Regions from separate parts of the Homo sapiens genome. Here region 1 is linked to region 2. A link means that fine-mapping ties the variant in region 2 to the expression of a gene that starts in the linked region. Tissue or cell type: whole blood. Region 2 holds a variant in brackets; the other region holds the start of a gene. All regions are shown on one strand. Distances are from middle to middle.

Evidence for each region. PIP is the estimated chance that this variant, and not a neighbour inherited with it, causes the effect.
Region 1: TRAPPC12 starts here. The variant in region 2 is fine-mapped to the expression of TRAPPC12 in whole blood (TOPMed, PIP above 0.99).

Annotation. Positions count from the first base shown.
Region 1 is chr2:3,376,885-3,381,884 of GRCh38, reverse strand. TRAPPC12 (trafficking protein particle complex subunit 12) reads right to left here and starts at 2,191. Exons shown (of 12, transcript NM_016030.6): 1 at 2,009-2,191. EIPR1 (EARP complex and GARP complex interacting protein 1) reads left to right here and starts at 4,067. Exons shown (of 9, transcript NM_003310.5): 1 at 4,067-4,237. The coding sequence starts at 4,196. RefSeq lists silencers at 2,171-2,220, 3,784-3,843 and enhancers at 2,709-3,225, 3,226-3,742, 4,014-4,063, 4,084-4,263, 4,284-4,563.
Region 2 is chr2:3,476,786-3,482,905 of GRCh38, reverse strand. TRAPPC12 (trafficking protein particle complex subunit 12) reads right to left here. Exons shown (of 12, transcript NM_016030.6): 10 at 5,111-5,211; 11 at 3,973-4,060; 12 at 3,341-3,687. The coding sequence ends at 3,445. TRAPPC12-AS1 (TRAPPC12 antisense RNA 1) reads left to right here. Exons shown (of 2, transcript NR_046720.1): 1 at 1-760; 2 at 1,021-4,313. It also overlaps the pseudogene LOC112268321. Among named protein-coding and RNA genes, the nearest start is that of TRAPPC12-AS1, 3.4 kb to the left of the region's middle. The variant G/C (reference allele first, on the strand shown) is at 2,864.

The sequences.
Region 1 (5,000 bases), 100 kb after region 2:
GTTAGGAACACAAACATATTTGGTCAAACTACAAAGAAAAGCCAGGATATAGTAACAGCCACTTTAGTGAGGGAGGGGTGGAAGGTGATGGCAGGAGAGCTTGACTGGGGAGGGACACACGGAAGTTTCAACGCACTGGGAAATGGTCCCCATCTTATGCTGGTAATGGAAGACTGGGTTGACTTGATCTTTAAATCTCACATGTGTGTTACGGGTAGTCTTTATAGTTCATAATTAAAAATGGAAAAACACAAGTATCTGTTCTTGATTTGTACGTGATAGAAATCTTTACTCCCTCCTATCATTGGCTTTATTTTTATTAAACTATAAATAGGATTTTAAGCTTACATAAGCTTACAGAAGCTTTACATCACAGTGCAGCAAAGAAATCTGACTTTCTCCTTGTCCAGTTGAGGGCTTTGCACAAGAATGTGATTAATTAATTGTTTAAAATTTTTTTAAATATTAAATTTAAGTAATTCTGTATTTGAGAAATAAAAAGTTCCTAACAACATTTAAAACTTGGTTTCTCAGGTTCATTTCCTGGACACAGACACTCTGTAAACATATCTTTTACCAAATTGCAGTCATGTAAAATTTCCTTCCATAAGGGCACGAGGGTGTGTAGTGGAAATCTAGGTGGCACGTATTAACAGAAGTCTCCATGTAATGAACACTCACTACAGATCAAGCATTTTACCTTATTATTTAATACTCATCCTAAACTTTTGAAGCATTATTATTACCTCCATCATACAGCAGAGAAGGCCAAGTGATTTGCCTAACATCACACTGACAGTACCTGATGGTGACAGGCTACCCACACAGCGCTTTCTGCCAATACTCTTTTCTTTGTGCTGGTCACCTCTCAGCTCCTCTTGCAAGGTTGCCAGGCAGGGGTGGGCAGAAAGAGCTCTGAAGGCAGTGTCTCAATAACTGTGTTGAGTCTTAGCTTCCCGACCAAGTGAAGTAACCTCTGAAAATCTTGATCTTTTAGATGGTACATCAGAATAAAGAGGATTAAATAGTGGCACCCCTGCATAGGCATCTTTTAAAGTGTGAAGAGCTGCACAGACACAAGCATAGTAATTATCATTTTAATGATAAAGCAGAGTGGCAACACCCAGTTTAGTAACTGTGAAGAAGATCCCATCAGATATCACAAAATGTAAGAACTGAATGAGTAACACTGTGTAATATTTCATTTGCTTTTCCCCTGTCCCTCTCCCACCCCAATCCCAAGACGGGACTGGCTCATTATCCGCCACTATCTTCTGAATTTGCGAACAGTGACTGAATCCAAAGACACCATATCTTCAAGTAGCCATTAAAAAGTACAAACCGTAGGTCCAAGAAAATTTTTCCTTGGGGCTACACTGTTTCGTAGTGAAGAGTGAAAAAATGACACGTTAAAACACATCTTTGACCCTAACGCTTTCTGTTGAATAAACGCTTTTTCGGTCTTCACAGTAAATATACTCTACAATTAGTATGTGTAGCAACAGCGGACGTTTACACAGTGACTCAAATGCTTTTACACTGCATTGCAGCCTCACAATGCTGAGTTTGGCAGGGCAGGTCATTAGTAACCTCTTTCCGCGGGAGGGTGAATTAAGTCTAAGGGAAGTTAAGGGGCTTGCTGGGGGCCTGGCTGGCACCAAGCCTGGAACTGGGGGTCTCGGGGACGCCTGGGCGCGCGCCAGCGGGTAGTTTCCCACACGCTTCGCAGCAGCTTCCCCTTCCCGCAAACTCCGCGGGCTGCAGAGACGCTTCCAGCCCTCTGCAGACGTGGAGAGCAAGGGCCGCGGCGACGTGGAGCCTGGCACAAGGCCCGCGGAGCACACACGCCCTTGGGTGGCAGGCGACCCCGCGCCCGGACCCCACGCCCACTCTAGCATCGGTCCCAGAGAAGGTCCCTCCGGGCTGAGGCCAAAGCCAGTGTGCTCCCTCCCCGAGGTGGCGCTACACGGTCCCATCCCCTCTGGACTGCCGAGGCCCTGATCCTCACCTGCCACCCGCCCACTGGAGCTGGGCTAAGGGGTCACCTGCGGCCGTGACCAAGGTCCGTGAGGAAGGTGACAGAAGCCGGGAATCGGAGAGGAACTGGCACCCCCGGGGAGCTCTGTACGCCTGCGCGTGCCGGGCCGCGGCGCGCCTAGTTCTGCTCAGGCCCGATGCAGGAACCCGAGGCCCTGCCCCCAGGCCGGAAATGGGGTTCGTTTCCGGTTCGTCTGCTGTGGGCGGGGCCTGGAGCCCTAGGTGTGAACGCGCACAGGCAACCAGGAGCCGGTAGTTGAGGGGAGCGGACCCTGTACTTGGAAATGGGAACGGAGACTCCACTCCACCTAGCCTGATTCTGTCACTCAGAGGCAATAGGCAAGCCTGTGGCAGATGGGGCGGGTGAAAGGGAGTCGCTTAGGCTATTTTTATTGACCAGCATATCCTAGAAATCAGTGTTTCTATGGATTTGTCTTTGTGTTTATCTGTATTTTGTAAGTTTCTTACCATGCACCTGCAGTACTTGTATAATAAAATTAATGATAAAGATATCAGTGATAGATGGGTGGGTTTAATCCCGAAGTATGAAGGCCCTCTTAGCTCCGCAAGTTAATATCGGCAAACAGAGTGGTTGAATAGGATGATTCTCATGTCTGGGCCATTGCTTACTTGATTTCTTTCTTTCTTGTTTTTGCTTACTTGATTTCTTTCTTTTCTTTTCTTTTTTTTTGACCGACTCTGGCTCTGTCGCCCAGGCTGGAGTGCAGTGGCGCGATCTCGGTTCACTGCAACCTCCGCCTCCCGGGTTCAAGCGATTCTCCTGCCTCAGCCTCCCGAGTAGCTGGGATTACAGGCGCGTGCCACCACGCTGGGCTAAGTTTCGTATTTTTAGTAGAGACGGGGTTTCACTGTGTTGGCCAGGCAGGTCTCGAACTGACCTTGTGATCCACCCTCCTCAGCCTCCCAAAATGCTGGGGTTACAAGCGTGAGCCACCGCGCCCGGCCTGCTCATTTGATTTCTCATGTAATCTCTAAAATTTCATACACTCAACAGATACTCATCCAGCCTTAACTCAATACCACGCGCCTTGCCCAACTGAGCAAAACGAGACCCAACCATTTCCGTCACGGAGATCAATAAAGGGTAGAGGGGAAAGCTAATCACAGAAATGGAGGAAAGGTGCGTGGTCCTGGAAGCCCCGGTGGAACCAGGCTAGCGGCGTGGTTCAGCTATGATGTATTTTGGAGTCCTTGCGATGCCATTTCTGCTGGCCCAAGGCCAGGGCAGGCACTTTGAGCAGGATGCGAAAGAGGGGCAGTCTCTCCACCACAAGTCTTTAGTCTTTGGAGACCTCTAGGAACCCCAGGGCCTTCCCTTCCGACTCCCATTCGGAGGCATATGCAGTCCAGGACCACCAGTGGTGCGGTGCCGGCTTTCATAACCCCATCCTTGGTAGTGCTTTCTTTGCCACACAGTGCTGGGCACCTGCAGAAATGCATTAGGCATGGCCCTGACTTAGGGCACCTTGGGCCGAACCTAAGGGAGTCAGCTCAGGTGCCCATCCTGGCTACCCAATGGACCAATGAGCGCTGCGACTGTGTTACTCAACTTTGCAGCGTCTCATCGGTAAAATGGAAGTGTAACAGCTTATTCATAGGGTTGGATGAAGCTCCTTATGGCAGTGCGTGTGAAGCGCTGGCCCAGCGCTCAGGAACGCCAAGTACATACAAATGACAATACATGGCGGCGCCCAACTACGGCGTGAGCGATTCTTAGATGCGATGGCTAGCTAAGGCTAATCGCCGCTTGCTCCCGACGGCCTGCGCTCGGAGCCGGCCTCCACCCACAGCCGGCCTCCGCGGCCCGCTCCGCCCACCAACTTATTTCCTCTGGGCCGGGTTCTCACCTCCAGGAGTCCCCGCGCTGAGAGCCCGGATGTGAGCCCAAGTGGCCATGCGCACAAGCCAGCGCCGCTGCCATTGGTCGCTGGTGAGGAACAGATTGATGACACATCCGAAAAATAGGAAGTGGCCACTACGGAAGCTGTTCTGGGCCAGAAAGACTTCCAGTTTGGAGTCGTTTGCTGCGGGGAGGGAATGAATGGGCGCTGGGAACACGCCCGCGAGGTGGGGACGCGCCGGCCGTAGCGAGGTCCTTAGCGTGTGAGTGGCCGGGGTCGGGTCGCTTCCCCGCAGCATGGAGGACGATGCACCAGTGATCTACGGGCTGGAGTTCCAGGTGGGTCACTGGGAGGGCGGCAGGTGCTGCTCGGCCTGGCTGTTGATAGCATGCGCGGTCCCATGGTGACTTCGGTTTGCAGATCTCCCACCAGCCCTGCAAGGACCCGTGTCTGTTCCCTAGTTCCCATTTTGCAGAGAAGTAAACTGAGGCTTTAGGAGGTTAAACGGTTGTACTGGATAACAGGGTTGGCCACAGCCGGCCTGCCTCCTTCCCCTTCACATCCTGTCCCGAACATGACTTCTGACCTGGAAGTTATCACTCACTTTGGTGGACTCATTTATTTACACGCCCACCTTTTCCTCTAGAATTTGAGTTCCTGAAGGTAGGAACTGTATGTTGTTTAAAATAAAAATGTTTGATTTTGAAACAATTTAAAGTATTTAGAAGAGTTGTAAAAATACATAGAAAGTTCTTCTTTACCCTCCACCCAGCTTCCCTTAATGTTAACACTTTACATAACCATCGTACATTTATCACAGCTTAGAAATTAACATTGGTACACTAATATTCAGTAAACCACAGACTGTCTTCGGATTCAACTGTTTTCACACTAGTTTTTTACCTTGTATTTTCCAGTGCCTTTTCATGACTGTCACATAGTAGGTGTTCAACAAATGACTATGAACCGAATGAGCCCCCAGAGCATAAGCAATGCACATGGTAGTTCAGGACAGCAAGAAAGCTGCCGTGGATAGAGTAAATGCGTCAGGGGGAATGAGGTAGGGGATGAGATGAGCGGGGGAGGAAGATGAGGATTGTG
Region 2 (6,120 bases):
AAAGGTCCATTCTTGTATTTCTTTTTAAGTTGAATTAAATCCATCTCTAGCCCCTGCCTCTGAACTGATGGAGTCTGGCTGTCATTGGGCCTCCCTCACCCGCAAGGGGTGGAACCAGAGCTTGGGGCTGAGGCGCTCCTGGAGTGTTTAGCGCCTCTGCTGTCAGGACATCCTGTGGCCACTGGCACGCTGTCTGCCCACACAGTGCCCCCGACCAGCAGCGGAGCCACCCACTCTCCACAGCCAGGGTTGGGAGCCCTGGGGCCCGAGTCCCCGGTCCCACGTGCCACACAAGGCAGGACATTCTGGGTGCTGTCGCATCCCCGGAATCAGGGCCTGGACCCTGGTCAGAGCAGGACCTGCAGGTGACCCCGGGTGGGGCAGACTGTCTTCTGTCCTTGGTGGCAAAGCCGGTGTTCTCGGCGTCATGTCTGCACACGTGTGCCTGAAGCCACGGGAACGCAGGGGCTACCTCTGGGCCTGGGCCTGGACCTGTGGAGCAGGATCGGGGAGGACACACAGGTGGGCGTCTCAAGAACTGTGGTGTACACAGCTGAGCCCCTGCAGCTCTGCTTTGCCGGGCCTCACCCTCGGTGCTGGGTGCAAGACGTGACAAGATGGCATGGGAAGCTTCCCGGGGAACGCTGGAACTGGGTGTTTGAAGGAGGACCTCATGGCGGCAGCTCCAGCCCAAGTACTGCAACTGTGGGGCCGTGCCAGGAGCAGGTGCTGCGGAGCCTGTGTGGGTCCAGGACAAGAGGTAAGGGGAGTGTGGACGGGGCTGCACTGTCCTGGGGTTGAGGGCAGGCTTCAGGGGGTGACACTGAATAGGGACTAGGAAGGTGCATGCCAGGAGGGGTCCAGGCAGAGAGAACAAGTGGGGGCACAATCCTCGAGGGGGCATAGAAGAGGCCAGCAGTGTAAGGCAGGATGGCGATGCCCATGGGCTCCAACGCCTGCTGTGTAACTGGAATTCTGTCTGTGGCCTCCGGCGTCTGACATGCGTTCTCACACCTGCAGGAGCACCAGAAGCTCCTGGAGGGCGGTGCAGACGACACTGTCGGGCCGGCCCAGCCCAGGCCCCAGCAGTTGACTCCTCTGTGATCAGAGGATGTGGCTGAGGATGTGCATTTCCGTCAAGTTCCCAGGAGAACCTGGTGCTGCTGCTTCGGGGACCCCACTTTGAGGACCACTGATCTAACACTGCCCCTCGTGGCAAACGCGGAATGACTCAAGATTCAGCTGGATGGATCATTCAGGGAGCAAATCCACCCTTGCCGCCTGGCACACCCTGGCCATTCGGTAACGATGCCATCAGGGTTACTGGCTTCTTCATTCTCCACTGTGCATTCCAGGGTGGGCATTTCCACAGTTGTGAGCCCATCATCAACTCAGCGAGTTCCCATTTTCCAGTTAGAAAATAAGCTTTCTGATCGTTAGCCATTCACTTCAATTGGCTCTAGAAAAGATTTCTGGGATGTATAATTTATTTTTAACATAAAGAAAAGCTAAGTGTAAACTAGATAAGCTACAATTGTCCCAGACGTTATAGACACTCACAGCACCGTTTTCCTCTTCTAGCAAAACAAAACAAAAAATTCTGCAATCATACAGGCAGTAGGAAAAAAAAATTAGCTGGACACCATGGCTCACACCTGTAACCCCAGCACTTTGGGAGGCCGAGGTGGGAGGATCACTTGAGGCCAGGAGTTAGGGACTGGCCTGGGCAACATAGTGAGATCCCATCTTTATAAAAATAAAAAAAATCTGGGCGTGGTGGAGCACACTTGTGGTCCTAGCTACTCAGGAGGCTGAGAGTGGGGAATCGTTTGATCCCAGGAGGTTGAGGCTGGAGTGAACCATGTTTGCACCACTGCACTTCAGCCTGGATGGATGACAGAGTAAGATCCTGTCTCAAAAAAAAAAAAAAAAAAAAAAACAAAAAAACCAGGAAGAAATAATCCAGGCAAGAAACGAGGCAATGATACTGTCACCTGGCCTGGCCTCATGCCAGCAGCATGGGGGTGGGGCTTGGGAGGGAGGGTGGATTTAGGCTTACCAGCTTACTAGGGAACTTTGATCTCTGTTTCTGATTTGCCGGGCTCATGTCTAGCTGGAGCCTGGGCACTGCTGTCTGCTTTCCCGCACAACTGGCCGGGGACAGCTCTGAGCCCCGAGCCTGTAAAGGACGGGCTCCATAATCCTCTGGCAAATCCTGTAAGATGCCTGCAGTAAGGTGCCAGGTTGGAGCAGAGGAAGAGCCTTACACTTCATCCCTGAAGTCACATTTGAAGGAAGACCCTCAAGGTGGAGGGCTTCTAATTACATCTTCATCTTTCTGGGCTTAACAATAGTTTCAGTTCTCTTTTTGAAGAGAAAGATCTTGAAACCTCCTTGGTGTCCAACAGTCCTTTTGGCTGTCTCACCTCTTTTTTCTTTTCTTTTAATGCATAATTAATCTAGATGTCAGCAAATGGGCTGAGACTGTCTGGTAGATGCAGTGTTTGTATGTTTCTACTCTATTACAAAAATTAACAGAAATATGGCTTCGCTTTGTGCAAATGTTTATATCACAGTCTGTAAAATGAATTATATTTAAAACTATCCACAAAGCTAGATATTTAGAGAACCCTTGGCAGAGTTCTTTCGTAAAGTGAAGACATTTTCAGGTACTTTAAGTTCTTCAAAAGCAGGAATAACTGTGTAAACGTAAGGGCAAAAGGCCTTTCAGGCATGAGAGAACACATGAAAACACGTGTCTGGCTTCAAAACCACCCCCAGCCCCTGCCTGCCTGCGTTTTACGCGCTCTTCCTGTGCTTCATTATGCGTCGTGCTTCCTGTTCCACTCAGCTCACTCTCCAC[G/C]TGGACGTATAAACTATGGGAGAAACAGTGATGGCCTCTCCTCCACCGCCAGGCTGGCAGGGGTCGTTTGGCTGGCATCAGGCTGGAGGAGACTCGGATGGGTAAGACCAACGCACTTAGTTTTGGGTGTGTGGGGAGGGCAAGAGGAGCATGAGCGGCGATCTGTGGGGGGTGTCTTCCCTGTTGTAAATCTCCCTGTACGTGCAGGTGCACGGCGAGAGGGTCTCCACACCTCCCAGCTTTTCTCTGAGGATGTCCAGAAGGAACGAGCAAAGCAGGATTGGCCTCCAGAACAGAGGCCCCGAGGCTGACTCCAGATTTCCTGTCTACGAGCTGTGTCCTCCCAGCACGCCTGCCCCTTGCATTCATGAACAGTGACCCAGCTGCAGGGACTGCGTGGCTGAACGCCGACCAACTGCGGGGAAGTCCTGGGCTGGGCCGTGGCTTGGGACCAAGAAGACACGCAGCAGACACCAGTGAAGCAGGAGTTTTATTGAGTTCCTCCATGTCACATTAATACATTAGCTTCAAGACACAGTTTCAAAGACCCGGGTCCTTCTGACGTAGTGTGTTGGAGGCAGCTAGGCCAGCTTGAGGCACTGTGTGTTGAAGCTGTCCCCCTCCTTGCCGGCGACAGCCTCCAGCAGGGCCTGTTTCTTCTGCATGCTCCGTGAGGACTCCAGCTCGTACATGGTGGTCAGGTTGAAGAGCACGCTCTCGTGCAGGTAGTGCCTGGGGTCCTGCTGGACCATGGCCTCCAGCTGCCGCAGGGAGTCCTTGAGCTTGCCCAGGTAGAGCAGACACACGGCAGCGTTGTTGTTGGCCTAGGGAGGAGCACACGCCCAGGGTTGGCCCACACAACCAGGACAGACGCCCGCCCATTCCAGGCTGCGTGCTGGGCCGTGTTAGGGGCCTGGGGGTGGTGCAGAGCTGCTGGGCAGAGCCTAGGTGGCCCTGTTGGGTCACTTCCCCTAAGGGCCACAGCCACTGCCTGGAGCTGGTGGACTGGAGAGAGAGAGCGCAGGCCCCTGCTGAGACGTGTGTGGGTGTATGTTTCTAGCGTCTGTGAAAGGCAGAGGATGGAGGATCCTGCAGCTTGGGGATCTTACCACTGCGTTTCTTGGATCCATCCTTAAGATCTCTGTGAAGAACCTGTGGGCTTCTGCAAAGTTATTCTGCCCGAGGTGAAGGAACGCGCTGTAACACAAGCAACGGTGGCAGTTAGCGGGGAAAGCCCAGGAGCTGCTGTCCCCCAACACAACCCACAGGGGCTTTGGATCCCACAGAGACCCAGCGTATGGCCCTGTGTGGCCCGGGGTTCCTGATCTCCAGGTAGAGGCGGTGAGCTGCGTTTTGCATTCAGGCTCGCACATTAAAGCCACTCTAGTTTTTATTTATTTTTATTTTTTAGATGGAGTTTTGCTCTCGTTGCCCAGGCTGTAGTGCAGTGGCACGATCTCGGCTCACCGCAACCTCCGCCTCCTGGATTCAAGCAACTCTCCTGCCTCAGCCTCCCAAGTAGCTGGGATTACAGGCGACTGCCACCACGCCTGGCTAATTTTTTGTATTTTTAGTAGAGATGGGGTTTCACCATGTTGGCCAGGCTGGCCTCAAACTCCTGACCTCAAGTGATCTACGTGCCTCAGCTTCCCAAAGTGCTGAGATTACAGGCATGAGCCACTGCACCCGGCCAAGCCACTCTAGTTTTTGTTAATTGAGATAGAGTAACTTCACCTAAATGACTTCCTGCTAAAAGCGGACACCTGCTTTATTTACGCTTTCTGATCCTGGCTGCAGGCTTTGTCCAAGGCGTGTTTCCTCCTCACGAACGTGCACTCGCACGACGCTGTGCGTTCTACCACAGAACACCAGAGCACGGGATCCAGACACAGAACACCAGAGCACGGGATCCAGACACAGAACACCAGAGCACAGGATCCAGAACGGCCGCTACGCCAGCAATGGTGACCTTTACACACACATACGCTGAAAACGGGGGCAATACAAGCGCTTCTCTGAAGAACAAGGGGGAATAGCTCCTTAAAAATCAGCTTCTGTGACTAAAAGAACATCACTGCGATTCAAGAAAACACCTGTATACTCCTTGGGTCTCCGCTCTGAGAGACACAGGGCAAGAGGAGATACAGGGAGAAGCGCCTTCTCTAGGGAGCTTTCCAACTCAGTAAGTGGGGCTTGAACGCCTCTGGGAAATTTGAGAAAACATATATTTAGTTTTAAAATATTTACCTGTTCATCAAAACCATGATTTTACCCTGTAGTCCATCTAATTTCTGTGTTACTTTCTCAACGTCTTGAAAATACTTTTCAGCTGTTTTTATGTCTCCAATCTGCTTTGACAAAATTTAGTCAGTTTAGTTGACAAAAGAAATATTAAGTCTATACTCATATATTTAGTTCCCTAATATCATGTTAGAATATGAAGACATTTATATGTCAGGCAGAGGAAAACTTCAGTAACCATTTAATCATTTTTTAATAAAAAGGCAAAAGACATTTAAGATACAGTGGAATGTTAATGTTCTATATGTCAGAAACTAAGTTGCTAATATACACGCCTTATTTAAGAGTCTTATAGTTTAGTAATTTTTACCTTTTGGAATGAATTCTGGCAGAGCATTAGATAAAATAAAATGAATAACTAATAAGATGAAACATAAAATACTTAAAATATTGGTATAATATGAGCAGGTCCTACGTCAACTTATGAGTTACTTGTGGCTAGTAAAATGGTAGGTGCCACCACATTTGCAAATTGCAAAGTAATATTTTGACCAAATAATATAGAATTCAACTGTAAAAAACAAGCCAAACCAAACTCAAACCCACTCTTATCACGCATGTCAGGAAACCCACCGGCTGCCCGACTGAAATGCAGCCGGATGCAGCAGGCCTGTGGCAGAGGAGGCCTGGGGGGTGGAAGGCTGAGTGCCCCAGCCCTGACTCCTGAGGCCACAGCTTGGTTTTACAAAGGCAGACTTGGGTTTTCTTTCACCTCTAGAAGTGTAAGGAAGGGAATAAATGATCTAAGGCTTACAATAAGAAATAGATACAAATGAAAGAAAAGTCCTATTATGGCCCAAGCCGCGCTCACGAGGGTAAAGACAGAGTTGCTTTGTGTCCGGGGCACAGCCTGCGGGAGCCAGAATGTGACAGCGAGCTCTGTTATCATGGCAGCAGCAGAAACTTAACAGAATGCTGTCCTCTGTCTCGATGAGAAACAAGCTGAATGCGCGCGG